2 separate regions of the Homo sapiens genome follow, and region 1 is linked to region 2. The links come from fine-mapping of genetic effects on gene expression. A gene starts in region 2. The other region holds a variant in brackets. All regions are shown on one strand. Distances are between the middles of the regions.

Region 1 (15,403 bases), 54 kb after region 2:
AAGTAATAGTTAAACAGGTCAAAGTGTGACCTGCAGTAGGCCATCTCTGCCTTCCCTAGACCTTTGGAACAGTCCTACCTGAGAACAACGAGTGATGGACCTGGGGTCTTTGTCCTGCTCAGAGTTAACTAAATGAGTTTCTAGTATGTCTGAGGTAGACCAAGGTGATCACCACTTAGAAGGTACTTGCTTTACTTATAATTTGGTGGCAGTTCTCTTGTCCAGTTCTAAGACTTTGATATCCATAATATTTAAAATAATTTTAAGTACATGTTTTGCCTTGTGGAGAGTTTAGCAGTTTATTTTCATAGATTGAGATCTTTTTGCAACGTGATTCTCAATAACTATAGTGTGCTAAAATCAGTGGGCTTTCAAAGAAACTTTAGTGAATCAATATGTCTTTATATTTCTATTTAAATGGAACTCTTATTCCTAGTGGTTGTACTGCATTTTCATACGCTAGTGAATTCTGTTATCAGTCGGGCCCTTTGTGGAAGATGCCAAAACTCATCAGTGGAAGGACTGCTCATTTTTTCTACATGTCTCCAAATTAAGGAAGCATCCTGATGTTGACAGCATCCTCTGTGCCCTAGGTTTGGGTATTGCACAGTGTGTGTATGACAGGGTTGTGTTGTTTAATTCTCACAACAGCCCTGCGGGGCAGCTGTTGTAGAGTTGGGACCACAGGATTGTGAGCTGCAGCAGGGCTCCCCCAGGGCCTGTCTGGGCCCTTCTGTCTCACAGGGCCTCCCTGCTCTCAGCCATTTGGATGGACTCTAGTCAAGTTGTTTCCTGTGCCTGCTGTTCCAAATTGTTGGTAGGGCAGAAAGTTTCAGAAAAAAAATTCCACTTTCATTTACAGAGGAGCTGTACAAGGTACTTTAACACAGTTACTAGTTAAGTAATCTTACTTGACTAGGTGTGGTGTGAAATTAATCATGCTGTCTCACTGGAGCTTGCTTTTTCAGCTGTATATTTCCTGAAGTGACCAGCAGTAGCTTTCATCTCCTTTCCCTCCTCCCGTTGTGCTCATTGAGAAAAGAATGTGATTATTGTTTAATTAAATGACTTGACTTTTATGGGAGATTAAAGCAGGCAGGCTTTGATCTGTAACACCATTGCCAACACCTTTTTTGAGGATATGCTAACTACCAGCAGAAAGCTAAGATCCGCAGATTTTAATTAAAGACTTGAGACACAAAGCATGTAATTATTACGAGACATTTTCAGGGGACTGGCAAAGTTGTGACTGCATGCGAAGTGCAGGCCAAGAACAGAGCAGCATTAGAGCATCAGGCACCTAGGCAGGTGTAAGATCATGGCCCCGTCATTTGCACGTTCTGCCCCTTTTCTGCTTCAAAGGGTGCCATAAATTCCATATAACTGTATCTTGGGGAATGTGGAGTCCCTGTGAGAGCTAATCCCCATGTCCTGCCTTCCAGATCGGCGCCAATGGTGTGCCATAGCCATCCTCTTTGCAGTCCTGTTGGTTGTGCTCATCCTCTTCTTAGTGCTGTGACGGCGGGGCCTCTGGGTGCGAGTTCCTCCTGCATATGAACCGAGGGGAGGAGGAGAAGCTGAGCACGTGTGACATTGCCGTCTACTCACATTCCTATCCTGGAAACATACTGCTGCACTGACTTTTCTCCGTGTGACCCCACAATTGACATGGCTCCTCCATCCCAGCGCTGGAAGGGCCAGTGGGAAGAGGAAATAGATGTCTGCACTCCTGGCTGCAGCTGGACAACAGAAGCCCCATGCCGCCTGTCCAGTTCGGAGGAGAACTAGCTGCTGCCTTGCCTTCCGGGACCTCGTTTGCTGAGGAGGGACTTACAGACTCCACTGGTGTTTTGCTGTTGCTCATTCCATGCATCTTTGGCAGCTCTTTTCTTCTGCTCAGACCCTTCCCCGTGCTCAGACAGTGCACCGCTGTCCCATCTAAAGAAACCTGTCAGGAATACGAGCTTCTGGGTATGTTTCGTTTCCCATTGCTGTAGCATTTCTTATCCCCTGAGAGCTGATGATTATTGAGGACAGAAGGCTCAGAAACAGTTTGTGACAGAAAATGCAGTGTTTCATTTTTCAGGGATAAATGCTAAGATAAAATTGCTTTTCCAGGTCATTTTTTTTTGTGGTAAGAATAACTAATGGAAAATAATGAAACACCCTGGGGTTTGGGGGTGCTAACAACTTGTGGCTTTAACTGACAGGAGCAATTAAAAAGAGCAAGAGGGTTCTGCATTGGCATAGCTTAGGGAAGGGTTAATGATGTCGCCACAGGTCAGCTCCTGATCCTTGCCGACTTGATGTTGCTGTACCAGGGCTTCCTCCCCAGAGGTGCAGCTTGCGTTTTGAGGGTGATTGCTACATATGTTGTTGCTAAACAGCTCAGTAACACACTTGAATGAATTTGGATACCAGATTGTCCTCATTACAGTTCTTTTACTCTTAGGGCACTCTACACTGGGGGTTGGGGTTGGGAGTGGTTAGTACATTTATTACATTTATTAAGAAACGTAATGACATAAAAGGTTAGCTCTGGGCCAGACTTCTCTTACTCTGTGGGTAATGGCAAGGATGTGTAGGTAAACTTGGTTCTTTTTTTTCCCTAAGATGACAGCTTGATTTTATCATCTGCAGTCAAATAACTGAGCCAATCCAAATTTAAATGATAGATGCTTTAATTGAGTTTAAGTAGCTGAAACTGCTGAGACACTAAACTTTAACCTTCTGATGACTTTTTAAAATGCCTCAAATGTGCACATGTATATAGGATATTTTTATAACTTCCCTGATGAATAATCTGATATTAAAGTAGTATTTGGACCCAGAGCCAGAACTCGGTGGTGGAGGCTGCTGGTCTCTCCTCACCACCTTCTTTTGCACTTGGAAAGAACAGCAACATCTGGATAGAGTTCTAGCTTTGACTTCTCATTTCCTTGTCTTTTTGGGTGCATTCCTCAGCACACTTTTTTTTTAAACCTTTTTGTTTTGTTTTGTTTGTATTTCATGTGGTTTTATTTGGGGGTTTTGGTTTTTTCACCCTTTTTTGTGATTTGCAATGATGTGCTTGCCCAGCTAACTTTTGAATTGCACTTTTTAATAAATATTCTTAACAATTTTTGAAGAAGGATATTTTATCTCATTTGAGATCATGGTAGGTTAAGAAAATATGCCTGTTGATGAAAGCTAAAAGCAAATTTATGAAACTAAAAGGGTGATTGACATCCATGTTTACACTCCGCTCTAATGTTTGATATATAAATAAGTTATTTTCAAATTAGGAAAAAACAGTGAGTATTACAAAGGGCTTCAGATGTTTAGAGTACTAGGTTATTTATGTTTTACAAAGTTTGAATCTTCTATAAACTAAGAAAGGGGATGATCCTTAGATTTGCATTAAAATATAGAAGTCTTTTAAAGTAAATGTGAACCTTGTCTAAGTACTGTAATCCACACAACACATTATAAGAAGCAAACCAGCATCTTAAGGAATTATAAAATTACCCTATTTAAAAGCCATGCTATTGTTCTGCTATTACCAGATTTATTGTGCCACACAAAAGGATCATGTGTGTCAGCAGGGGCCGTTTGGAACAAACCTAGTCATTAATGAGTAAGATACTCCTGTTAGTTCAGGGACCAAGTTTTATGACCCAGAGGCTTAATGATGTTTGGATATATTTCAAATCGGCGTGCTTACCTCACTGATTTAAATTATTTTCTAAATAGTGGCCATTGTAGACCTGACTCAGGCTGAAGCTAAATAGAGAACAATTTAGAAAGTTAACTAACAATACAGTGCATTCTACCCGTAGGGCCACCATGCCCTTCTGCCCCTGGCTGATTTGATCCTGTGTCTGATCCCATTGCACCCTGACTGGGCAGTCCCTACAGAACCAGTGTTAATTTGAAGGGCCTCCACTCAGGCTCCAAATGTGGCAGCCAAAGAGAACAATCCAGGGAACCTACATTTATTTTTAAGGACAAATATTTCCTCCTCAGTGGTCCTAATGTTCAGGGCTTTAGAGGGAACCCAGGTGGTCTCTTCACCCTGTGTCCTAGAATGGGAGAGTAAGTAGACAGTGGTGATAACCCCACACTGCTTATAAGTGCATCTTTATAGTATTTGGGGCTTTCCTACCCCTTTAGCCTTCTGTACCTAGTACCATATTCCAGTTTTAAAGAACTGGCAGAATGTGATGGATAACAGAGGAAGAGCTCAATTTATGTTTATTGGAAGAACATTTTACTTAAATGATTTGAGGGGTGGGAGGGAGTGAACTACTGAGTTTGCCAGAGTGAAAATCCATCTGAAAAACTCAGCTACCTTTAGTTTTTAGTCCTCATTTTTGGTCTTGTCTCTGCGGACTGTGAAGAATCACAATGCTCTATATGCCCTGGACTGTGTGGCAAATGCAGGTTGCAGCGTGTGTGTTACATGAGGATCTTCCACAATTTCAGAATGCACGCCAGAGCTGAAGGGGGAAACTTGGTAACTTGCCCATTATTCTCTGCTTTTAGCCAGAGTTAAACAGACTGATGGGTCTGGTAGCCAACAACTTGGCAACTTCCACTCCTTCTCACCTCGTGAGATTAAGGGCTGTGAAAAGAAATCTAGTCTAACTCCAACAGAAATCTGTCTCTGTTAAGTGTTTTACCTTCTGTAAGTAGAGATGGTAGAGCCAAGATTTTTCTTTTGGTAATTTCCCTGTCTATAAAGTGAGACCAAAGGGATATCTGTTCCCTGTTACCTTTTTGGAGAATTCATAACATTTGAAGATCAAAAAATTGAATGATAAATATGAATGGCTTTTCAATTCTGTGGACTTTGTACCATTTGGCTTCACCTTGTACTGCAAGATGAATTTGTAAACAAAACAAAATTGGACTGTCTGGAAAGCTAAAGTTCTGAAATATGGAATGTACTGCCTCTAATTTTTCTTTGTCTTCCTCTCACTGGCATTTTTTTCTCTCCCAGGTTTCTTAAGAATAATGTTTTTTAAAGGAGGCTTTTTGCCCATCAAGAATAAAAAGAAATAAAACCAAAGGGTTACCGGACTTAAGCCCCCGCAGTCACTGTGCGCCATCCCTGAGCAAAGTCCGCCCCTGAGGACAGTGCCCCTGCCCCAGTGACAGGCCTTACTCCTCCCAGGGCCTTTGCTTCTAATAGGGGGTGGTCTTTCTTTTCTTTCTCTCCTTTTTTTTTTTTTGATTAAAAAATAAAACCAAACCAGAATTTGCTGAAAGCAGGTACCTTTCAGTAGCTCCGATCAGAGTAACTCAGCTTAGAGATACTGTTACTCAGGACAACAGTATGTACAAAAGTCTCCGGAAAAGGAAAATAAAACAACCTGAAAAGAATTCAACTTGAAAAGGACTGAATTACTAGAATGATCATATAGCAGAATAACACAAAATGCAACAAAGAGCCACCCAAGCCTGAGGGTAAGACCTCTACTTCCCAGATTCTTGGATCATAGCCCATGACTTCTTGGGGCACAGAGGCTGGCTTCAGCATGAGGATCTCACCACTAACTGCATGTAACTCATCCATGCCTTGGGCAGAGGCTAAACACACGGAACAAGGCCACCAGACAGGTACACATGAACCCATGAGAGCGGTGCTCTCTGTAGAGTCTATAGACCTGGCAGGGACCATGGATAGCTTAGAGGTACTTACTCTGCAGCTGGTCACATAAGACCCTAGACTGGCCAGGCGCGGTGTCTCACACCTGTAATCCCAGCACTTTGGGAGGCCGAGGCGGGCAGATCACGAGGTCAGGAGATCGAGACCATCCTGGCTAACACGGTGAACCCCATCTCTACTAAAAATACAAAAAATTAGCTGGGCGTGGTGGCGGGTGCCTGTAGTCCCAGCTACTCGGGAGGCTGAGGCAGGAGAATGGCGTGAACCTGGGAGGCAGAGCTTGCAGTGAGCCAAGATCGCGCCACTGCACTCCAGCCTGGGCGACAGAGCCAGACTCCGTCTCAAAAAAAAAAAAAGACCCTAGACTGACCTAAGCCCTACAGTTCCCTTATCCAAATTCCCACTAACCAGTGAGAGAGAGGGACAAGACTTGGAAGCTGCCTCCAAACCAATTTTTGGTCTACAGTAAACAAGGATAAACATAAAACACCATTCCACAGGCCAGCTTCAAAAGAACTAGTGTGCAAAGAAGGTGAGAGATCCCAAAGCCCCATTTAGTAACCCCCACCGAAGGAGGGGGATGGGTGTGGGTGGTGAGATGGCCTGTTCTGCTGCTGTGGGCACCCCTGTGACCTGTCCTGCTCTGCCATCCGGCCTTAATTCGTACAGTTACCCCCGCTTCCTAGATGTGCACTCTCATGGCCCAGAGCTCTCACCTTTCTGAGCCTGAGCCTCCCGGCCTCCAGCGTACACAGAGTGGAAATGCCAGATCCTAAGGGTTCTCTGAGGAGGGTGAGGTGGCAGTTTTTCTGAGAACCTGGGGTCCTTCCATGCCACAACAGTTGTAGGTGGGGCAGGCCAAAGAGGATGCTGAGTTACTGGAGGCAGAGAGCAGTCGGTCAAAGAGCAGGGAGGAGAATACAGCTGGGAAAATGATGAGAAGTTTCCATTGCATGGACTCAGCAAGCAATTTCTGGGGTCACCTCAGTTATGAGGCGTGAACAGCAAAGCTTTAAAACTGATGTGAGAACAGTGTGTCTCCCTTTTTCCAAATTCCCCAGAGGAACACTACTCCCTGCTCTGGAACTTCACATCAAAGAAACAATACACCTGATGGGAAGAAGTCTTTTCAGGACCCCAGAAGTGCCCATTGGAGGCCCATCAGAAAAGTCTGGCTGCTTCTCGTTTGTGGGTCCGCACATTTTGGGCAAGATGGCTAGAGGGCTGGAGGTTTCCCAAGGCCTCTAGATGCAGTTGTGCAAAATCAATCCTCCACAAATCACTGGCCCTTGGTAGTATGCTCGTTCCACCACCCACTGGAAGTGAGGAAGATCTTTTTGCTGTCAGAGAGGGCTGTCCTTCACTAACACCATAAATCTGCTCCCTGGCTGCTGGAGTGCACAGGCCAAGGGGGTCTTGAAGATCCTCGTGTCAAACTTGAGTGTCAGGCTTGCAGTTGGTTTCACCGTAGATAACCCTTGTTGCCCTACAGCTTGGGTAACTGTTATTGTGTCTTGACCTTTTGCTCTTCCTCTTCCTTGTCTGAACTGCGTTCCCTTCTTAGATAAAGGACAACTTTTATGTTTATTTTCTTCGTCCACTGTCA[T/C]GTCACCCACTTGCACAGGAGTCCCACCTTATCTGCGGTTTCACTTTCTGAGGTTTCAGAAATGGGTTGCACTGGAAAGCACTGTGCCTATACAAAGATTTCAGCAAGGGAGTTCCTATGTATATAAGGGAAGAAACAGTTTATCTAGTCAGTACAATCTGTGGTTTCAAGCATCCACTGTGGGTCTTGGAATGTATCCCTGCAAAAAGGCGGTGGGGCAGGGGGCACTTCTGTATACTTCAAAACGTGCACGATGAAAACATAGTGTTATCTGTCAATCTGAAAACAAAATCGCCATGACTTCTGGGCACTGTAGTCCTACCTGTGGACTGGCTGCCTGACTGTGGAGCGTCCTTGTATTGGACACTGAGGGACTAAGATGGCGACTTCTCATTTGGCAGCCTGTGGCAGCTGAGTTTGAATTTGGTGGTGGCCGTCGCATGTTAGGGTAGCCATAGAGCTGCTCGCTGTCAGCCGGAGCAGCAAGCACAGTTTCACTTGACCCATTTTACACCTGTTGTCTCCACCCAAGCACCATGGCTCCAGTTAGGAAGGGCAACCGTTGGGTGGCCAAGAACAACTTGTTACGGAGCCAGAAGCTGACCTCCTTTCTTAAGGATTTCAGCTGTGAAGTGCAAATACTATGGAAGCCAATTCAGTCAGGCAGAACCTCTCCCAGAAGATTGATAAGATGCATGACCAGGCCACTCAGCGGCTTCCTGAGGCACAGTGTGACATGAACTGGTAATGCACAGACTGTGCATTCGTAGCTGTTTCGTGAGTAATATGCAGAGTGTGTGTCTTGGGTATTTTAAAGTACGTGAGAGGGTTGTTTCAGCAGCTGATGGGATGCCAAATGTTTGACTTTTTATTATTCCAGCCCTTCAGATTTCCCCAGAATTGTCACCTTGTAGAGCGTGTGTCTTCCCAGTGTGTTCCAGGAATTCTCTATACCACTGTCGTGTTGCTCAGAAAACAATAGAGCTCTCAGTCAGTTCAGGTAACCTTAGAATCTGCGCTGATGCCTCAGAAAGGAAGAAAGGCCAGGACGGCCTCGGGGGTGGCACTCTTATTTCTCCCTTGGTTTCACTTCCTTTTCCATTTTTTGTGGCTTCCCACTTCATCCCGCAGCCTCCTCTCATAGGCTGTCCCCCCTTACCCCCACTCCATTCTTCCCACTCTCTAGCCCATTTGTGTCCTCAGAGGTCTGGCTGCTGCCACTGCACCTGCCTCAGACCCAGTGTCACCTCGCCAGGGCTTCAGCCAGCCTGGCCTTCCAGCTGCCACCCAGCAGCGCAGCAACTCAGAACCTTCTGGCCCAGACCTTCATACCCAACTCCCGCCCAGGGCAAATACAGAAGCCTCTGCTGGTGCAGCCAACACGGAGTGGGGAAAAAGGGGAGAGGAAAAGCAGCAGCTTCCTGTGCTTCCCAGCTCAGGGCATTGGTAAGAGTGGATGGAATTTGGCATTCTGCTTCTACCATTTTGAATGAATTGGCCTATTCTTTTATACCATCACCCCTCCCTTCCAAATCATTCATTCTGGTGTGCAGCCCATTTCTGTCTATTTTCTAATGAAATGACCAGAGCCACCATGTAAGCTTGTGCCCTGCACAAGGATAGATACCCCACTGGGGAACAAACGGGACCAAAATCCACTCTGTGTTCTGCTGGCCAAGCCGGGTGACCTGGCCTGGGCTGGCGTCCTCCCAGAAGAAGGGTTCATTTTTCCAGTTTGCACACATGTGCTATTTGTGGGTTAGCTGAGGCCCTGCTCATGTCTTCGGTTGGTTCACAAATCAGAAACAGAACAAATGGCCAGAGATTAGTGTTGTAATCAAACTAGATTTACAACCAAGGCACGCTGAGTGGCATTATGGGTTTTATCCTGCGGCATGGCAAGCCGCTCATGCACAGGCTGTGCTCAGTGTCCTTTTTCCTCAGCCATGCCAGCCATGGGGAAGCAGGAGGGGAGCTTGTTGGAGAAGGCGGCCTCAGTGAGAGCCTTGGTGCATTCCCCTGAAGCCACAGTTGGGGGCTTCTCCTTCAGCAGGGGTCCCCATAGTCTGAGTGTTTTCAGAAATCTTAGGTCCAAGGGACCCCCAATTTTTTTTTGTTTGTTTTTTTGTTTTTGAGGTTGAGTCTCACTCTGTCGCCCAGGCTGGAGTGCAATGGTGCGATCTCGGCTCACTGCAACCTCTGCCTCCCGGGCTCAAGTGATACTTGTGCTTCAGCCTTCTCCCTAGTAGCTGGGACTACAGGTGCATGCCACCAAGCCCGGCTAATTTTTGTATTTTTAGTAGAGACGAGGTTTTACCATGTTGGCCAGGCTGTTCTCAAACTCCTGACCTCAAGTGATCCACCCACCTCAGCCTCCCAAAGTGCTAGGATTATGGGTGTGAGCCACCGTGCCCAGCTGATGGGACCCCAAATCTTATGTCCAGGCCCCAGGGTCTGAATTCATATTTAACTACTGAAAGGCATCAGCATCTCCTCTCTGGTTGAACTTGACCTTCTTACTGAGAACCAGCCAGGCAGGCATCAGAAGCCTCAGGCTACAGAGGAGAAGCTGGTGGGCAAATAGATCAGGAGCAAGTGCTTTCACCATCATGGATGAAAGTTGAAGGCCAAGAACACTTCCTTGTCCTGTGGTGCAGGGGTTGGGATGGAGGGGTGAGTCTTATAAATGGAAGAGAACTAAGTATTGTGATTTCAAGGAAGAACATCTGTCCCCTGCCCCCAAATACCCCCAAACCCGCCAAAATTCTACAGATTCATTTGGCTTAACTCCTCTCACAGAGGTAAGCTAAGGTAGTCAGTCTCGCTGTGGTTGCAGTGAATTTGTTTAATGATCTTGGTTTCCTAACTGCTAGATAATCCACTGGAGCCAAAGGAGTTTTGGTGGATTGAGGGAACCTACAGAGGTTGGGTAGGGGTGTGTTAGGAGTTGAATTGTTTCCCCCAAAAAATTCATGTTGAAGTTGTAACCCCCAGTACCTCAGAATGTGGCATTCTTTGGAAATAGGGTTGTTGATTTAATTTGGGAAGGTGAGGTCATCCTGCAGTAGTAAGGTGGGCCCCTAATCCAGTATGACTGATGGCCTCATGAAAAGGGAACAGAGCCCTACAGTTTACACAGTGCTTTTATGCACGTTTTTCCTATCCATTTCTGTGGGGTAGGCATTATCATACCTGTTGATTTTACTCTAGTTTATTGCTTTTTTGGCCTACCATCTGTTAGCCTCACTTTTTCTAACAACAGGAACCCCTTCTGCCAAACACACAACATATTTTGGAAAGTTACCCTACCCCATTCCAACATGTGCTTGTGTTGAGAGGTACCAGTCTTAATCCTCCTGCCCAGCCCTAGCCTAAAAAAGTGTGTGTGCTGGTTAGGCTCTCCCCATCAGCCCCCAGCTAATCTCTTCTCTGCCCTTCCATGCCCCAGGAGGCTATACGCATCAGATTGCACTTCCAGAGCCCCCGGCCTCTGGTTGGGCTTGGCCACTGCGATGAGCATCCTCAAAAAAGACCAGAGAGCTGGAGGAGAGAGAGGCTGGGGCTTCATTCCCCAACCCACCTCACTGCAGTCCCGCCAGGGGCCACGGTCACAGCTCTCACAAGGAGCATCCTCTGCCAGGGTAGCAGCTCTTGCCGGACTATGATAACAATATTCTCTTTTACCCTTCAGCTCTGGTGGAGGTAATAGCTTCCCTCTGTCACACGTCTCTGGACACTTCACCATCCCGTACTGGTTTCCTCAGTTCTGATTATTCCCTTACAGATGCTGTCTGTTGAATTCATTTAAACCATATTGAGTTGTACCATTTAGTTCTTGCCAGGACTGTTAGCTATGGCTTGTCTTAGAGGCTTATCCTGATGGTCACGGTGATTAGGCCCAGAGGTACCACATGATCCAACGCACGTCAGAGTCCTCCCGTGACTTCCTTTTCCTTTTAGTAACCAGAGCTGGGAGAGAGACACCCATTCTTACGGAGTGGTGAAGCGATGGAGGATATGAGCTTTGTGCTGGCAGCCACATCCCTACCTCTTGGATAAAATCATTCACATCTTGGTTTTGATCTCTCGGGTCCCCACACTGCCCTGATTCCCACCTTTAAAATAGCATCCCACTTTGTGCTTGAGCCGGTTTACATAGGTTTCTGTTACCTGCAACCATTAAGAGATAGTTTTTCAGCTAGTGAACAGGAGAGTCGAAGCTCAGACTCCAGGCATCTGCCTCCAAAGCCTGTACTTTTAGCAGATGCTCCATATTCATAACTGTGGCCAGACACCTCCCCTGCTGTTGGCCACAGCTGAGAAAATCCCTCCTACTCCTGTGAGGAAAGGCACGTGTGTCTGGGTATTTCCCGTAGCATGATACAGGGGTAATTCATTTTGAATAATAAGATCATACATGAAAAGTTCTGTATTAACTGAAAGTTGACCAATTGAATCATATCTTTAAGGTATAAGAAGAGCTCTTTGCTGGAAGGAATCTTGTCATTAGTCCTTTAGTAAAGCAGAGACCCTCTGTTTGTCCTGTTAAATCCAGATTTTCACTCCTACTGGTGGTGTGTGAGCCCTTTGTTAACTAAACAATTTGTAAGAATTGCTCCACCTCCCAAAGAATTTCCCAGCTTATTGATGGAATGGAAGAATTTGCCTCAATGGATCCCCAAAAACAAGGTGCCCTTGGAGGTACTCCACTCTGTCAAGACAAGGGGAACCGCCAAATCTTGTCAAGATGCCGCTCAGAAGTAACCAGAGGGCTCAAAAGTTCGCAGGGGGCTCTAGCCATGAGATCACTACAGGCCAACTAAAGAGATGGCTTCAGGATAGGGTGAATGTAACCTAGATTAGAGGATTTATGAAACAATTGTTCAGGCAATGCAGGAACAAGGCCTCCTCTCTTTACCTGTTCTTTGTTGGGTGTCTTTCCCATATTCCAGGAATCTCTTTAGCTAGGCAATACATTCTTCTTCCAGCCAGTTCTTTTGATATTGCAACTCATGCTGATTGGCCTCCCGTGCCCTCTTGATGGTGTGAGCCACATTATCTACAGCCAGTCAGGAGAGGGTGTCTTTATTGAAGATCAGGAAATTCTGCCCATCATATGCATACTGCAGAAATCCTGTAGTGCTTCCATCCTCCAGCAGCTCACAGCCAATCATTCTCTGGTAAGTGTGAGACCCTGGAACACACACGCAAGCCCAGAGGGGTCCACACAGAGACAGAGGTGGGCTCTCAAGTGCTGGGAGCAGGGGCATGGCTGGAAGCATCCTTTGGTCTACGTCACCCCACAGGCCTGCTGTGGCATCGCTAAGTCCCCAGGAGGTCCCTCTTTGGAAGCCCACCTGACAGCAGGGTTGTTTTTTAAATTTTTTTTGGTTCATATAGCTTTAGGGATACAAGTAGTTTTTGATTGCATGGATGAATCGTGTAGTGGTGAACTCTGGGCTTTTGGTGTATCTGTCACCCAAATCGTGTATGTTGTACTCAGTAGGTGGTTTTTTTCACCTCACCCACCTTCCACCTTTCCCCTTCCTGAGTCGCCAGTGTCCATTATACCACTCTGACAACAGGTATTTGTGAAGTACCTACTGCATGCCAAAGGAGTGTGATAATTCCCTTCTTGGGGAGTTATCCTGTAATGGGAATGATTGATTGATAAACTGTGGCTATTTGAGTGCAGTGGAGGAGGGAGAGAGATGCAGGAGCTAGAAATATCCCTGGGAAAGTTAATGTCATTATGCATAAGCAAGCAGGTCACTAGGCCTGGCTACCAAGAAGTGAGACACAGAATGGGCAAATTTAGAATGGGAAAGGAGATGGGGATATGGGGAAGGGGGATGCGGCAGAGGATAAAGGGCTCCTGGGGGAGAGAGGGACAGTCCAGAAGATGCACAGGCAGATGGGACACTCTGAACTACACCAACCAGATTTCCCAGGTTTTGCCAAAAGCCACAGCAGGTGCAAGTCAGCATTGCTCATTGGAGGTCAGCCCAGGGGCCTCTGTGGGGTGAGGGAAGCGTCTGTCTCTGCTGCATGCACACCTGAGTGATTGTAGTGTCTCTGCTGGCGCTTCAGTTCCACCCTGAACATCTGCTGCCAGCCCTTCAGCAGCTGAGTGTACCTCTCCCAGTGATCAGGCACGAGGTTCTCTGCCATCCATGGGGCCCGTGGCTCCTTCTGCTGAGTGACACTGTCATATGTGGTGATAGGGTGCGAGTCCACATACCCAACTGAAATAAATTCAGGGACCCCATGGATGGGATCCGAAACGCCCAGGCGAAAATATCTCAGAGAGTGCGTCCCTGGAAAGGAGGCAAAGAAGGAAGACATGTAGGGTCCCAGATGATCCAGGTCCTTCAACTGCATTCATTTAGCCCCACACGAGTGCTCCCTGCTCAGCTGTACCCAGGCCTCCAGGCCCCAGCTGCCATTTCCTCTTACAGAACCCAGGAACCGGGGCCTGGACAGGACTTTAGAGCTCCAGACCAACGACTTGGAGCCTTTCTCGTTCAGGTTTGCAAATGCAGGATGGAATTTTATAGGTAATCTCAACTCATAAGCAAAGTACAGTGCAAGCTTGTCCAACCCACGGCCCAGGACGTCTTCGAATGCGGCCAACGCAAAATTTGTAAACGTTCTTAAAACATGAGGGTTTTTTTTTTTGTGATTTTTTTTTTAAGCTCATCAGCTATTGTTAGTGTATTTTATGTGTGGCCCATGACAGTTCTTCCAATGTGGCCCAGGAAAGCCAGAAGATTGGACACCCCTGGTAGAGAGTGCTGCTCTGGTTGTAGGGGGAAGGGAGAAGACACAGGGGGAGCTGTCCCTACGGGAGCCCTTGGGAACTCTGAGGTCTTGAAAACCCTGATAATCCAGCCCTCTTGTTTTACCAAAGAAGTCTGTGGGTGGATAAATGAGGACCCCCCACTCCACTTCTGTGTGCACGTGTGAGCACGCACACATAAGCACATGCGCATATACACCAGGTCGGTCAGAGCGAGATCCCTGTTAGGATTCAGGCCTAAGTGGGCAGGTAGCATCTATAGTGTGGAGATGTTGGACAAAGGATGATTCATGTTCTGAGTGGGACCATGTGAGATTTCTTCATGCTACCAAGAACAGTGAGCAATTTAAAACTTATGAATTGTGTATTTCTGGAATTTTCCATTTAAATTTTTGGAACCAGTAGCTGAAACCGTGGAAAGTGACAGCAAGGATAAGGGGCTACTACTGTCCATAAATTGTGGAATGGTTAGATCTAGCTTCCTAACAACTGCATAACCTCACATCATTCGCATAGAGATGATTTTTTTTTTTTTTTTTGAGATGGAGTCTCTCTCTGTCACCCAGACTGGAGTGCAGTGGTACGATCTCAACTCACTGCAACCTCCACCTCCTGGGTTCAAGCAATTCTCATGCCTCAACCTTCCAAGTAGCTGGAACTACAGGCTTGCCCCCCAACACCTGGCTAATTTTTGTATTTTTAGTAGAGACGGGGTTTCACCATGTTGGCCAGGCTGGTCTGGAGCTCCTGGCCTCAAGTGATCCACCCATCTCAGCCCCCCAGAGTGCTGGGATTACAGGCGTGAACCACAGTGACCATCCAGGATGGTCTTCCTTTAATGTCCAACTGCCTGCACCCAACTCCCAGCCTTAAAAAAAAATATGCTTATACTTAAAATAGTGAGGTCTTATTCTTGTGGGGCTCACATTGGTCTGCTGTATGTAAACAGGATGCCATTCTCACCTGTTTATTTGGCAATTAATTAAGGGCTCACGGGGAAACTGTGCTCTCTGGTGTTGAATCCAGAACAGTAAGAGAGTTTTGAGTAGAGGAGAATGATCCCTCAGCCCTGAACAGCATTGCTATGAATCTCATGACGGAAGCCCATGCTTGGTAACCCAGGGTGGAGGTGAAACTCCAAAACAGCTGACTTCTGTAGTTATCATCTTTAAGGGCAGACTCAGAGGGACTTGGGATCATTTAGCTCAGACCCTTATTAACCATGAAAACAATTACAGCTCACCCCAACATACATGGTAGCCATTTGGTGCAATGCATTTTGGACTTGGCCATTAGGAACTGCACCTTCTCTGGGACGACCCTAAGGTACTTACCTGGGGGCAGACTG
Region 2 (15,403 bases):
TGCAGTGGTGCCATCTCGGCTCACTGCAACCTCCGCCTCCCAGGTTCAAGCAATTCTCCTGACTCAGCCTCCTGAGTAGCTGGGATTACACACCCAGCTAATTTTTGTCTTTTTAGTAGAGATGGGGTTTTCCCATGTTGGCCAGGCTGGTCTTGAACTCCTGACCTCAGGATCCACCCACCTTGGCCTCCCAAAGTGCTGGGATTACAGGCGTGAGCCACCACACCTGACCGATGTCTTTCATTTTTTAAGTCATTGTATTCTAATTGCAAATTAGTAAATTTAATCCAGAGTACAGGGCAAATACATATAAAAAACCCAGAGAGTGATAAGATAAAAATCACCCATCAGAAAAAATTGCTGTTGGCCGGGCATGGTGGCTCACACCTGTAATCCCAACTTTGGGAGGCTGACGTGGGCAAATTGCTTGAGCCCAGGAGTTCAAGACCAGCCTGGGCAACATGGTGAAACCCCTATCTGTACTAAAAATACAAAAAATTAGCCAGGTGTGGTGCATGCGCCTGTAGTCTCAGCTACTTAGGTGGCTGAGGTGGGAGGATTGCTTGAGCCAGGGAGGTCAAGGCTGCAGTGAGCTGAGACGCCACTGTACTACAACCATGGCAACAGAAAGAAAGAAGGGAAGGAAGGAAGGAAGGAGAGAGAGAAGGAGGGAGGAAGAAAGGAAAAAATTTGCTGTTAACATATTTTAGTGTATTTCTTTTCAGTGGTTTTGCTGACTACATATGTCTGCATATAAGCATACCTTTATTTGTTCATTTTACCAAAAAAGGGTTTTACGTCCTAATAGTATTTTGTAAATTCTTTTCAAATTTATATTTTCCAATATTAATATGCAGTTTTTAATAGCATAGCTTTAATAGTCCTTAAAATTTTTAATAGATTCAATTATGCCAAGATCTTCAAGGACAGGTAAGACTGCCCCACTAAGCTGGGAGGCACTGAGGTAGGGAGAATCCCTCGCATTCTCTTTGTGGAAAAACAAGCCTCACCTCTGAGCAATAGTCTAAACTTAAATCTCAGGCCGCACTTTTCAGAGTGGGTTGTGCTTATCCTGTTCATTATAAATCCCTTTATGTGTTTGGCTTTTTAATACCTGATTTATTATATGTATTTTAAGGCCCCTCTGAGGAATCTGACTCATTTGCAGTTAGTGCAATTCATCCTTAAAAACCAAATGATGAATTATCAAGTTAGCAAAAGGGTCTTGTTTGTTAAATAATGTTGTTTTCAACATAATATATTTTATTATATTTAATCAGTAGTTTCCCCTTGGCTATTTCTTTTTTAATTCAGTAGAAGTGTGTGTGTGTGTGTGTGTGTGTGTGTGTGTGTCTGTGTCTGTGTCTGTGTCGAGTTTGATTTGAGCCCTTTTCTGTGGGTAGGTAAAATCCATTTGCCAATTTTTGGCCAAGGCTAGTCCTTGTACAAATGGGAGTAGAATACTGTAGCAAAGAACATGGGTTCAGGAGTCAAACTTATTTTCAAATGAGGCTCTGACATTTCCTACCTATGTGACCTTTGACCAAATTATTAACTTCTCTAAGTCTGGGATTTCTCATAGAAAATGGAGGTAATAACCAATTCTGCCTTACAGGATTATTGTGAGGATTCAATGAAATCAGCAGTGGTGGAACCAAGAAGTGACTTGTCACTTGTTGGGGCATTAGAGTACTTTTACTACACACGCATAATGGCCATCAGCTGTCTTAAGTAATCCCAAATAAACCTATAATTTAAGAAAAGAGGCCAGGCGCAGTGGCTCACGCCTGTAATCCCAGCACTTTGGGAGGCCAAGGTGGGCAGATCATGAGGTCAGGAGATCGAGACCAGCCTGGATAACATGGTGAAACCCCGTCTCTACTAAAAATACAAAAAATTAGCCGGGCGTGGTGGTGGTCGCCTGTAGTCCCAGCTACTCGGGAGGCTGAGGCAGGAGAATGGTGTGAACCTGGGAGGCAGAGCTTGCAGTGAGCAGAGATCGCACCACTGCACTCTAGCATGGGCGACAGAGTGAGACTCCATCTCAAAAAAAAAAAAAGAAAAGACAGGGGTCTCCCATGCCACATCAAGTCCCCTAGCCCTGCTGTCCAACCAAATTACATTCTAAAACCTGCCCCATATGGGGATTCTGGAGCTTCTGAAGATAATGCATGTGTGTCACTGTATTTGTTTTCACACTGCTGACAAATACATACCCAAGACTGGGCAATTTACAAAAGAAAGAGGTTTATTGGACTTACAGTTCCACATAGCTGGGGAGGCCTCACAATCATGGCTGAAGGCAAGGAAGAGTAAGCCACATCTTATGTGGATGGCAGCAGGCAGACAGGAGCTTGTGTAGGGAAACTCCACCTTATAATACTGCCAGATTTCATGAGACTTATTCGCTATCATGAGAACAGCACGGGAAAGACCTACCTCCATTATTCAATTACCTCCCACCAGGTCCCTCCCACCACAACACATGAGAATTCAAGATGAGATTTGGTTGGGTACACAGCCCAACCACATCGGTCACTTAGCACAATGCCTGGTACATAGTATGTAAATATTAGCAATCACTAGTACTATTATTGCAATGAGCCAGTTTACCAACACAGATTGATTTTTCTTTCCTTATACACAGTCACATTCATAAAGGATGGTAAAGAACATACCTCCCCTTCCTATAGTGGTTCAAATCCACCGTCTTGTCAAGAAATTCACTGAATTCCAATAACGTATTTCAGCTTTTTAGTACTCACCAATTTCCATTCATTCAGACCCTCCTAACTTGCCTTATTCTAAACAGGATTTAAAACTGTTATTTATTTATTTATTTATTTATTTTTTTGAGACAGGGTCTCACTGTCGCCTAGGCTGGAGTGCAGTGGCGTGAATATGGCTCACTACAACTTCTGCCTCCTGGCTCAAGTGATCCTCCCACCTCACCCTCACGAGTAGCTGGGACCATAGGCATAAGCCACTACACTTGGCTAATTTTTGTATTTTTTTTTTGTAGAGATGGGGTTTTGCCATGTTGCTCAGGCTGAAAACTGCTAACTTTTGATGTACTTTTTCGTATGTGGTCACTTGGCTTTTCACTTCTCTTTTATTACTTTTTCTCTTCTTTTTAAAAAACTTTTTGGATTTCTGACTATCCAAGTAAATATTTCACTGTAGTAGTTGACAAACTTTAAATAGATTTCTTTTTTCCTACGTGTAAAAATTTTCTATGTACCAAAACATTTTAATGTATAAGAAAGAACAGAGCTGAAATTGTATCATATGTATAATTTTGTGTCTTGCTGTTTTTACTCAAGCCATTCCTATGTCATTACATACTTTTAAACAACATTTCTAATGACCACCAAATGGATGTTCCACAAATTCTCCATCATTCCTTAGTGCTGAATATGTAAATTGACTGGAATTCCTCCTTGTTTATTTTAAATCAGTGTGTAGAGGGTGACAGTGGTGGAGGTGTTGGTAACAAACAGGAAGAGGAAATAAATCATGGCCAGTGTGTTTTGGATATGTGTATGGATATTTTCTGTGGTTGGAGGTAGGAAACATAGACAGTCATAGCCAGATCAATGGAACTTAACATAAGTGGAATGTTCTGGAATATGTACATGTATATCAGGGTTTCTAAAAGGTTGGATAATGATGAAGAGTATGATATCCTATATCTATGTTAACACTTTTCTCCCTTTCTTTACCTTGTTTCAAGAAGGATTTAGGGTGAACTCAACAAAAACAAAACAACTCAATCAAAAATGGGCAAAGGACTTGAATAGACATTTCTCCCCACCCCCCAAAAAAGATATACAAATGGCCAATAAGCACACGAATAGGTGCTTAACATCACTAATTATTAAAGAAATGTGAATCAAAACCATAATGAGATACCACCTCACACCTATTAGTACAACTGCTATAAGGGAAAAGAAAACCCAGAAAATAACAAGTGTTGATGAAGATATGAAGAAATTGGAATGCGTGTGTCTTTTAGCAGGAATGTAAAATGGAAAACAATATGACTGTTCTTCAAAAAAATTTAAAATAGAATTACCATATCCAGCAGTTCCACTTCTGGGTATATATCCAAAATAATGGAAAGCAGGGTCTCAAAGAGATATTTGTACACCAGCGTTCATAGCAGCATTATTCATTATAGCCAAAAGATGAAAGAAAGCCAAGTGTCGTCCACTGATGGATGAATGGACAAGCACAATGTGGTATATATACAATGGAATATTAGGCTTACAAAGGAAGGAAATTCTGCAATATGTAGAATGAATGAATGAACCTTGAAGATATCATGCTAACTGAAAGAAGCAAATCATAAAAAGACAGATCCTGTATGATTCCACTTATGTGAGGTACCCAGAGTAGTAAAATTCATAGAGACACACAGTAGAATGGTGGTTGCCAGAGATTGTTGGGGGAGAATGGGGAGTTGTTTAATGGGTATAGAGTTTCAGTTCTGCAAGATGAAAAGAGTTCTGGACATTGGTTGCACAACAAGGCAAATATATTTAACACTACTGAATTGTACACTTAAATATGGTTAAGATGGTAAATTTTATGTTATGTGTATTTTACCACAATTAAATTTTTTTTTTTTTTTGAGATGGAGTCTCGCTCTGTCGCCAGGCTGGAGGGCAGTGGCGTGATCTTGGCTCACTGCAACCCCTGCCTCCTGGGTTCAAGTGATTCTCCTGCCTCGGCCTCCCAAGTAGCTGGGACTACAGGCACGCACCACCAAGCCCAGCTAATTTTTGTATTTTTAGTAGAGATGGGGTTTCACCATGTTGGCCAGGATGGTCTCGATCTCTTGACCTTGTGATCTGCCCGCCTTGGCCTCCCAAAGTGCTGGGATTACAGGTGTGAGCCACCATGTCCGGCCTCATAAATTTAAAAAATAAAAAATTTAAAAAATAAAAAATTATTCCCATATATGATCCAGTTGTTCCTTATAACAGGCTAGTGAAGGAGCAGGCTGAATGTCATTATTTCAGAGTAGGGGAGATCCCCTTGTAGGGGTGTCATGGCATTCCCGCAGCTTCCAGGGGCAGGGGGTGGCTACCCACTGCAATCCCTCTCAGGTCTATCCTGGCATCCCCAGTGATATGGTTGGCTCCTTTCTGATCCTCAGCTCATTTGGCTGCCTGTGCCTTATTCTCTGTGTTGCCATCTCCTTATTTCTGCAGAAGATGCATTGCAGGACCCAGTGTGCTCCCTTCCTCATTCACTCTCCTAACTTTGGAGACTCACTCAGGAACCAGAGGTTCTCCTGGCTGCCCACTCAGAACTCTACAGAAAGCTCAGAGTTGGCATGTCAACCTCCCCCAGAAAAATGAACAGAAGTTAAGTCCAATTAAGAGTTTCGGTTTGAGGAATTCTGACAAATGATACTCTCATGTAACACACACTCCGTCAAGATACAGAGCATTTCTAGTACCCAAGAAAGTTTCCCTTCCCAGTCAAACTCTGTCCCCCAAGACAACCACTGTTTTGATTTTTTATTCCCTGAGAAATTTAAATTATTCTTTTGGGTTGGGGGTGGGGTAGGGGTGGGGGTGTGGGAAGAGATGGGTTTTTGCTGAGTATTCTTCCCAACCTATTGTTTATGCCAGGACGTGGGTCCTATTAAATGAAAAAAAAAAAAAAGAAAGAAAGAAAGAACCTCCTTTGTTTCTCCTTGCATTTTAGCCATAGCTTCCCTTTCCTTGTGGGCAGTGGAGGCCAAGGTCTAGTTTGAGAGAGGGTAAAGGAGGGTGACACATTAAAGAAAGGAACACCTACACACACACACACACATACACACATTTTATATCTTGACACTCCACTATCTCCATTGTTGGTGCTTTTTCTAATCCCCTAATTATGGGAACCCAAGCCTCTGTCCTCTATCTTCTATTACTACTTATAAAACTCTGGCCTGTCATATGTGGTCCAATTAAGAAATTCATGGAACAGATAATAAGAGGCCGTGTCAGGCACTTAGGTGATAATAACATTAACATAGTATCCTGTCCCTCCAGGAGTTTACTGTTTGGTGGGGATAAATGACATGCTAACAGCTAATTTACATTCACCCTAAATCAAATCCTCCTCTTGTGTTCTCTTTCTTGATGGTTGGAACCAACACTACCCATTTACAACCCCAGAAGCCTTCCTCCCTCTTCTTTCATCAATTCCCCCATACCCTGAACCAATCAGTCACCAAGTATACTAACTTTGCCTCTAAAGTATGTCTCAAATGCATCACTCTTCTCCACCTTAGTTGTCACAAGCCCAGCTCAGGATACCCTCATCCCTCCTCTGGACCATAACCTCCTAGCCACTGAAGCATCTGTCTCAAATGCCAATCTGACCCTGTCAATTCCCTCAGTCCCCATGGGGAACTGTCCATAGGAAGCGTCCACTATTCTGAACATTACAAACAAGGGCCCTGATAATCTGACCCTGTCCACCTCCAGGCTTAGCTCCTGCTGCCCCCATCCTTTTCCTTCTACTCCAGCAACATGGCCCCCTTCTCCTGGCTGCTTCTAGTCACTGCTTAGGAACCCCCTGCCCCAGCCCCGAAAACACACAAATATACTGGTATCTTGTCGCTGTGTTTCTATGGCAACCTGTGCCCTTCTCTCACTGTGTGTCTCTCCCACCAGTCTGTCTCTCCCACCAGTCTGACAGTTCCTTGAAGGCAAGAACCAAGCCTTGTTCATGCCTGTGTCTCAGTGCTTAGCACACAGTAGGAGCACAACATGTGTCAGGCACTGTTTTAAGCACTTTTCACACATCACCTCATGACACTCTATAAGGAAGCTGTTATTACGGTGTCTATTTCACAGTTGAGGATAGTGAGAGATGAAGCGGCTTGCCTGAGATGCAACAGTCAGGAAGCAGCAGAACTCAAGCAATCAGACTCCAAGGATGGTCTTCAACACCATGCTCACCTACCCCTCAATTTACATGTGCTTGTTGAATGAATGAACGATGACACGTTTTCACCTCCCCAGCTAAGTAAATTAAACAGTTCTCTCCCAATAAACATTAGCAATCACTAGTATTGGACACTGCTTCCTTTCCCCACATCTGCCTTCCATCATTCGCTCCTCCAGGGATTTTGGCTTTCACCCCTCTCTTCTCTCCCCTCCTGAAACCCATTCAGCCCCTCATCATGTCTAGGTGTTTAGTCTTGTTTTCCTTTTGAAACATCTGTCAGATTCACTCCTTCTCTGTTCTCAATCGCTGTCATCCTGGTCTGGACCTCATCCCTTCAGGCCACATGACTTTAGCAGCGTCCTTACTGGTTTTCCTGACTTCAGTAACTTAGTCCTTTGGGATCTTGAGGTTTACACACATTTTTATTTAACCATCACAACAACCCATGAACTAGCTATTATTATTTATGTTTTATAGATGAGGAACTGAATGATAGAGCCAAGGTTTAAACGGGGTTTGTGTTGCTCCAAGGACTGTGCCAGCTCCAGACTGGTGACCTTGGGCAAGTCACTTAACCTCCGAGTCTCAGATTTCTCATTTATAAAATGGGCATGATAGCAGTAATTATCACATTGTAAGAGCAACTGAGATAACACTTAACATCCTGCCTGACACACACACACAGTAAGTGCTCAATGATTTTCAGCAATCAAAGTCCACAATCCCCATCCACAAATTTCATAGCATATCTAGCATATGAGTTGGTTAATGGTTCTGGGCAAAATGTTTTCTCGAATAGCTCTTGAACCACAGTGAGAGGAAGTTGTCATACCTGGCCCCTTCTTTATTCCTCGAAGGTGTGCTCTCCTGGGAAGCACCATATGCTGTATGAAAAATTACTTTACATGGTTATTTGCAGAATGTACAGCAACAGAAAGTACACCCCATCTGGTGGAAAGTGCACAGAATCTGCAGTTCTGCCCTGTCCAGGCTGTGTGACTACAGGAAGTCTTCAAGCCTCTCTGAACTTATTTTCTTATCTACAAAATGAGAAAAATGGATGGTGTGGTGGCTCACGCCCATAATCCCACCACTTTGGGAGGCAGAGGCAGGAGGATCATGTGAGCTCAGGTGTTCAAGGCCAGCCTAGGAAATATACTGAGAGCCCCATCTCTATAAAAAATTTAAAAATTAGCCGGGCGTGGTGGCGCTCACCTGTAGTCCCAGCTACTCGGGAGGCTGAGGCCGGAGGATCGCTTGAGCCCAGGAGGTCAAGGGTGCAGTGAGCTGTGATTGTGCCACTACACTCCAGCCAGGGTGACAGAGAGAGACCCTGCCCCCCAAAAAGGGGGAGGGGGGAATAATACTTTCCCCCAAAGGATACTGAGATGATGCATACACAACCTTTAGCACACTGTCCAACACAAAGCAAGACCTACTTAAAGGATCTGTGTAACATTATAATCAGATACTATGCTTCATTTTAAGTCGAGGACCAGATAGATTTATAAATTACATACTGTCAAAATTAAGTATTAAAAGTAGAGGAAAGGTAAGAGGATTTTGCAAATCAGGTACAACTACAGCTTATCCTGAAAAGCCGACTGCCTAGTTCTGAGGGAACAAGCCACTCCTCACCCTCAAGCTTGAGGAGAGGGCTGTAGAAGCCCGCCCACCTCCACCGCCCCGAGGGCTCCGCCTCCAGGGCCGAGGGACGCAGGCGTAAGCCCCGCCCACTGGGGGGGGGGGGAGAGAGAGAGAGAGAGAGAGAGAGAGAGAGAGAGAGAGAGGAGAGAGAGGAGAGAGAGGAGAGAGAGGAGAGAGAGGAGAGAGAGGAGAGAGAGGAGAGAGAGAGAGAGAGAGAGATATATGCCCTGGTCACGTGAGCGGGGTGCGGAAGTCGTGTTTCAGGCGGCGTTCGTGATTGGCCGCGGCCGAGGGTCCCGGGGGTGGGGTCAGGCCCTCCGACGCTTCGGGAGGAGCCGGGACTGGAGGCTGCCGAGGGGGCCGGCGCCCGAGTCCGGGATTCGGCCAGTGGTGCTGAGCGAGTGCTGGACCAGCGGCCGTCCTGTGCACCTGGCCTGTGCGCGTGCCCGCTGCTCGGCTTCACCCAGACTAAGGCGCGGGCAGCTGCGGGAACAGGCGGGGTGGGCGGAGGGAGACCGGGAGGCACGGGCGCCCTGTGCGCGGAGGAGGTGAAGGCGGCCGGGGCCGGGACGCCATGTCCATGGAGGACCCCTTCTTTGTGGTGAAAGGGTGAGTGTCGGCCGAGCGCTCCACCGGAGGAAGAGGTGGCGGTGCTGCCTGCCCGCACCTCCTAGGTCTTCTCGCAGTGGGGGGAGGGGAGGCAAGTTGGAGCTGGGGAGGGGGAACAGTGGAGACGGCTTAGTCTTGAGGGCCATGACCAAGCGTCAAGAGACGTTCCCTCCATCCCTACCTGGACCGTGAAGCCACTGTCCCCAGCCAAGCCCCTGGTGGTGGGGGGCCCTTTTTGGCCTGTGTGCTGCGGTACAATTTATTTGGGGGCCGAGGGGCTCAGCAGCTCTGCAGGTGGGGAAGGAGACACGCGGGTCCTGGCGCACACTGGCCGTCTAGTCGAGCATGGGATCTTGCTTCGAAGGAGCGAAAACAGCATCTGGGCAGGAAAAGGGAAATGGCCCTCCTGAGCTTTGTAGTTCGCGTTGACGGGGGTGAGCTCCATTGTCCATTGAGTTTGGAGCGCTTGTCCGCAGACTGGCGAGACCACAACAAGCCCAGAGGCGTCTGAGCACGTTTGCTGGGAGGGAGGCGGGGGCGGGGGCCGTTCTGGGAGGCTGGGGAGCAGGGCACCGGAAGACAATTCAATGGGGGAGTTTTTACTGAGTAATGTGAGGAGAGGAAAGCAGTCGTTCATACTCAGTGATGATTTGGAAGGAAAACAAAATGAAACAAGCCAAACCAAACTTTCCTCAGCTTTCTATTAGCAACCGGAATTTTCTCACAGTGCTAAAGGAAATGAGTGTTGCTTGTTAACTCCTTGATTTCATCCAGGTTGTTTGACAGGTTTCTCCTATTTCTTCTGCCTTTCAGAATAGAAAGGACTGCCTTCTGTTCCCTTACAAGCTATCCTAGCTCATCTTTGATTGCTCGATTGTTTCTTTGGAGATAGAGTCTTCAACTGCACTTTGTAATATCCACTTCGTAGCCATTAAACACATGCAAGAAGATCAATTCTGATGTAACTTTTAGTTTCTTATTAGAAACTTGTCAGTTTTCTGTTTTAAATGTCAAACATGAAAAATCTGAAAACTGCAAAGTTCCCAGGTCAGTACTGATCACCACAGAATGTCCCTTGCTTTTTACTAGTTGCTGCTAGCTTCCTATTTCTGTAGTGGTGCAAGCTGGCCGTTGTATAGTCAAGTGTTGTAGAAAATTTAAATGGTATTTTAGGTGAAATACTTTATCGATTATGCAGTAAAATACATTTATACTACTTCTTAATATTTCCCTGGAAAGTTTTTTTTCTTCACCTTACTCTAATTTAGATGGGAAAATGCTGAGTTGTAAATTTACTGGTAATATGTGTATCCCTACCTAGAAAATGTGATATTTATTAGAAGGATTGATTTAGGGGTTAATTTTTAAAATAGATGTTTTTTCCTTGATTGAAAGTTCTTAATGCTTAGGTTGGCAAAGGTTATCTCTGGCGGTAGAGATCAGAGATGATCAGAAATTTTTTGTTTGACTTTTTATGGAATTTGTCAAAAGCCTAAATTCTTCTGTCTTGGCATTTTTTTTTCTTGATGGTATCCTATACAGTCTACTAATGCTTGCTCACTGATTAAATATCACTACTTTATCGGAACATTGGCTTGGAGGGAGTTTTGATTGATTTTTACATCATTTTAGCTCCTATCTTTAAGGTTCTTGAAGGAAAAGAGATTCTCAGTTCCTTCTGCTGTGGAAAGGTAAAGTCACCCATGAAGGTGTATCCAGATTTTTGGGGAGTCATGTACCTGTGTTTATTAAAAGTATCAAAAATGCATTACACAGCATGCAAAAATTAAAGGTGCCTAAATTATGGCCCTTAGCCTAGGAGCTTCTGGTCTAATCTGAGAAACAAATTACCCCAAAATTAAATAGAAATGACAGGTGGCAAATGAATGAGTGTTGAAGTGAATGCTACAGATAAGTGCCTCAGGAGTTCAGAGAAAGGTAACTCCTTGGGAATTGTTAGGATTAGGAGAGCTTTTGGAGGCAGTAGTGTATCTTGAATTAGGTTTTGAAGATGGGCAGAATTTAGATAATCAGGCCTGTCTCTCTTACCTGGATGCTTATCAGAGTCTTTTTAATTGTTCTTCCTGCTTCTGGTCTCATTTCCTCTTTCAGCTGTCCTGGGATCTATTGGATCATTGCTGTCCAATAGAAGTATAATGCCAGCCATGTATGTCATTTTACATTTTCTAGTAGCCGCAGTAAAATATAAAGGAACAGGTGAAATTAATTCTAATGTAATCTCTAATACATTCAAAATATTCAACATGTGATTAAAGATTATTGATGAGATATTTTACTTTTGTACTAAGTCTTCTAAATCTGATACATATTTTACACTTACTGCACATTTAAATTTGGACATTAAATTTTCATCAGAAATAATTGATCTGTATTTAAAGTTCATTAAATACATTTTTTTTTTTTGAGACAGAGTCTTGTTCTGTTGCCCAGACTGGAGTGCAGTGGTGCAATCACGGCTCACTGCAACCTCTGCCTCCCAGGTTCAAGCGATTCTTGCACCTCAGCCTCCTGAGTAGCTGGGACTATAGGTGTGTACCACCTCACCTGGCTAATTTTTGTATTTTTAGGACTATGGGCAGGGCACCCGCCACCACGCCCGGCTAATTTTTTGTATTTTTTAGTAGAGACGGGGTTTCACCATGTTAGCCAGGATGGTCTCGATCTCCTGACCTTGTGATCCACCTGTCTCGGCCTCCCAAAGTGCTGTGATTACAGGCGTGAGCCACCGCGCCCGGCCTACATACTCTTTAATTGTTCCAAACATACATAAAAGGTTTTTGATAACTGAATTGCTATCAGTTACCAAGTTTACATTAATTAAAATTTAATTTCTGTCACACTAGCCACATTTCCAGTCAGTAGTTGTATGTGGCTTCCGTGTTGGACAGCACAGTGTAAGCTTTTCTAGAGTCCTAGACAGGTGTACCCTACTTAATATTATTCAGTGGCTGCTGCTGGCCTGCAGAATAAAGTGCCAACACTTCCTGACCTCACTGATCTAGCCTCTGCTCTCCCTTAGCCTTAGTACTCCAGCAGTGCCAGACTCAATACAGTGACTGTGATTGCTGTACTGGATGCTCTTACTCTACATGCACCCACACTGCCTGATTCACCCACGCAGCTTTCTGGAGTCAGTGTAAGCATCTCCCTTGCCTCCAGGAAGTGCTTCCTTTGTCACCCCTAATTATTGGACCTCTTCCTCTGTCTCTCTTTCATTATTAGACTATGAGCTCTGAGGTTTGGGACTGTTTTTTTTTTTTTTTTCCTCTGTATTTCCAGCCTACACCTTGAATATATAGTGTAAATGTTGAACACATACTCTTTGTTGATGGTGGTGATTGTGATGGAATGGTGCCTCATGGGTGAGAACACCACCAGCCAAAGGCCTAAGTTGGGCAATGTGTGTTAGAAATGATCTGGAAGAGCAGCCCAGGTGGAGTAGACAGTTTAGGGAAGTAGTAACAGCTCACATTTAAAGGATGCATCTCCAGTGCCAGGCATACATGTAAAGTGCTAAGTAAGCACTTTATATGAATTTTCACTCTGTAAAAACACCCATATGATGAATACTAGCCACATTTTAGAGATGAGAAGCTGAGGAAGTGTTAGAGGGGTTAACTTACTTGCCTAGGGTCACACAGCTAATAAGTGGTGTACTCAGGCTTCAAATTAGAACAACCTGATTTCACACTACTGTCAATACTTCCCAGTGCAGGTAAAATAGGGTCAAGTTATGTTGGCCTAAGGAGAATCTCATCTTGAGGCCATTACAGATTTTTAAAGCAAGGAAATGACATGAAATTAGGATTTTAGGAATATTGATTTGGTGGTAGTGTTGGATGCATCAGTGTGAGGAAAGATGAAAAAGGAGACCAGTTAGAAAGCTGTTGTAACTTATACATGCAGTGGTTAGTGCTTGGAAGTTTGAAGCTCCTTTTGGGAGGTTTTGACATTGTCAATGTCCTGTTCGGAACAGAATCCCACAACAGGGATTGCTCTTTTATCCTTATGAAGTAGGTATTATTATTGTCATCATTTCACAAAAAGGAAAATGAAACTTAGTAAAAAACTTCAACTTTATAAGCTTGTACGTAGAAGGGCCAGGATTTATATATTTATTACAAATATATATTATATATATAATATGGTCATTTTAAAAATTGGGATTATACGTTATATATGGTTTTATCACTTTTTCTTTTCTTTTTTTTTTTTTTTTTTTTTTTTTTGGGACAGAGTCTTACTCTGTCGCCCAGGCTGGAGTGCAATGGCGATGGCGTGATCTCAGCTCACTGCAACCTCTACCTCTTGGGTTCAAGCGATTCTCCTGCCACACCCTCCCAAGTAGCTGGGACTACCAATGTGCGCCACTATGCCTGGCTAATTTTGTATTTTTAGTAGAGATGGCATTTCACCCTGTTAGCCAGGCTGGTCTTGAACTTTGACCTCAGGTGATCCACACACCTTGGCTTCCCAAAGTGTTGGGATTATAGGCATGAGCCACCGCGCCTGGCCTGTTTTATGACGTTTTCATCTGTATTTCTTTATATCCTTCAGACTTCTGGGTGGCAGCTTTTAATGACTGCATTGTATTTTGTCATATAAATGTTCATCCTGGAAGATACATTATATTTATGATCACACTACAATTAATGTGGTGATAAGCCTACTTGTCATAGGTCTGTATTGCTGCTTCTGATTTTCATAGCCTGTATTCCTGGAGCATAATTGCTAATTCAGAGGGCAGGCACAGCAAAGCGTTTGATGCATACTACCACGTTGTCCTCCAGAATATTCCCCCTTGCCCCTCAAAGTGTTTGAGGGACCCAATTCCCTTGATTCCAGTACTGGGATTTTCATTAAAAAAATCTTTACTAATCTCCGGGTGAAAATATCATATTTAAATCTTGTAGTCTTCATCTTTGTATTCAGTAAGGATGTACTCAGTGTTTGTTGAGTGAACCCATTTTGATTGTTTAGTTCTGTAGTTTTTTTCCTCCCTTGTTGGCAAGTTTTTAGAATTAGCCTCCTTTTAGAATTTGCACCTTCTAATCAGACAAACCCTGAAGAAAACCATGTAACTGAGCATGTGGAGACAGAGTATAAGTGAGCCACTCCTGTGGATAAAAGGTACAAATACCATGGCTCTTTGCTATTTTATTGCTGTGGAGGTTTTGTGTGTCTGATGAGGATAGTTTTTTGTTTGTTTGTTTGTTTGTTTTTTTGAGACGGAGTCTCACTCTGTTGCCCAGGCTGGAGTGCAGTGGCGCGATCTCGGCTCACTGCAAGCTCCGCCTCCCGGGTTCACGCCATTCTCCTGCCTCAGCCTCCTGAGTAGCTGGGACTACAGGTGCCCGCCACCACGCCCAGCTAATTTTTTTTTTTTTGTATTTTCAGTAGATACGGGGTTTCACTGTGTTAGCCAGGATGGTCTCGATCTCCTGACCTCGTGATCCTCCCACCTCGGCCTCCCAAAGTGCTGGGATTACAGGCATGAGCCACTGCGCCCAGCCGAGGATGGTTTTTTTGTTTGTTTGTTTGTTTTTGAGACAGAGTCTCATTCTGTCACCCAGGCTGGAGTGCAGTGGCGCGTCTTGGCTCACTGCAACCTCCGCCTCCCGGGTTCAAGCACTTCTCCCTGCCTCTGCCTCCCGAGTAGCCCGCCATCACGCCCGGATAGTTTTTGTATTTTTAGTAGAGACAGGGTTTCACTGTGTTTACCAGGCTGGTCTTGAACTCCTGACCTCAGGTGATCTGCCCGCCTCGGCCTCCCAAAGTGCTTGGATTACAGGCATGAGCCACCGCACCCAGCATGATAACAGTTTTATTTCCAGGTTTTTGGCTGTGGATTGATGTTGAAATAATGACATAAGTAAGCTGATGAGTAAGATGGTATATGTTATGTTGTGTTCTTTAACCTTCTCTGTCTGCATATCTAGCTTTATTAACACTAGATTATGAGCTCCTCGAGGGCATCACGCATTCTATTCACTGTTGAAAAACTGTATTGGTATAGTCACTGTGAAAAAAATAACCCTTGTTTGTTAATTTTGGCCTAGTAAAATTGAATGTAAATCAAATTTAATACTTTCTAAAAAGCAGAATCCAGTGTTTCGTTGTAAGAACAAATTTGCAAGCCTTTATTATAAATTTGAGTGTTTAATATTATTTA

The links. PIP is the estimated chance that this variant, and not a neighbour inherited with it, causes the effect.
Region 1: its variant is fine-mapped to the expression of STX6 in whole blood (TOPMed, PIP above 0.99).

Annotation. Positions count from the first base shown.
Region 1 is chr1:180,962,686-180,978,088 of GRCh38, reverse strand. It overlaps STX6 (syntaxin 6), which reads left to right. Exons shown (of 8, transcript NM_005819.6): 8 at 1,443-5,364. The coding sequence ends at 1,519. It also overlaps the pseudogene MR1P1. Among named protein-coding and RNA genes, the nearest start is that of KIAA1614-AS1, 16 kb to the right of the region's middle. The variant T/C (reference allele first, on the strand shown) is at 7,257.
Region 2 is chr1:181,016,446-181,031,848 of GRCh38, reverse strand. STX6 (syntaxin 6) reads left to right here and starts at 8,979. Exons shown (of 8, transcript NM_005819.6): 1 at 8,979-9,210. The coding sequence starts at 9,176. RefSeq lists silencers at 8,698-8,797, 8,918-9,047 and an enhancer at 8,456-9,239.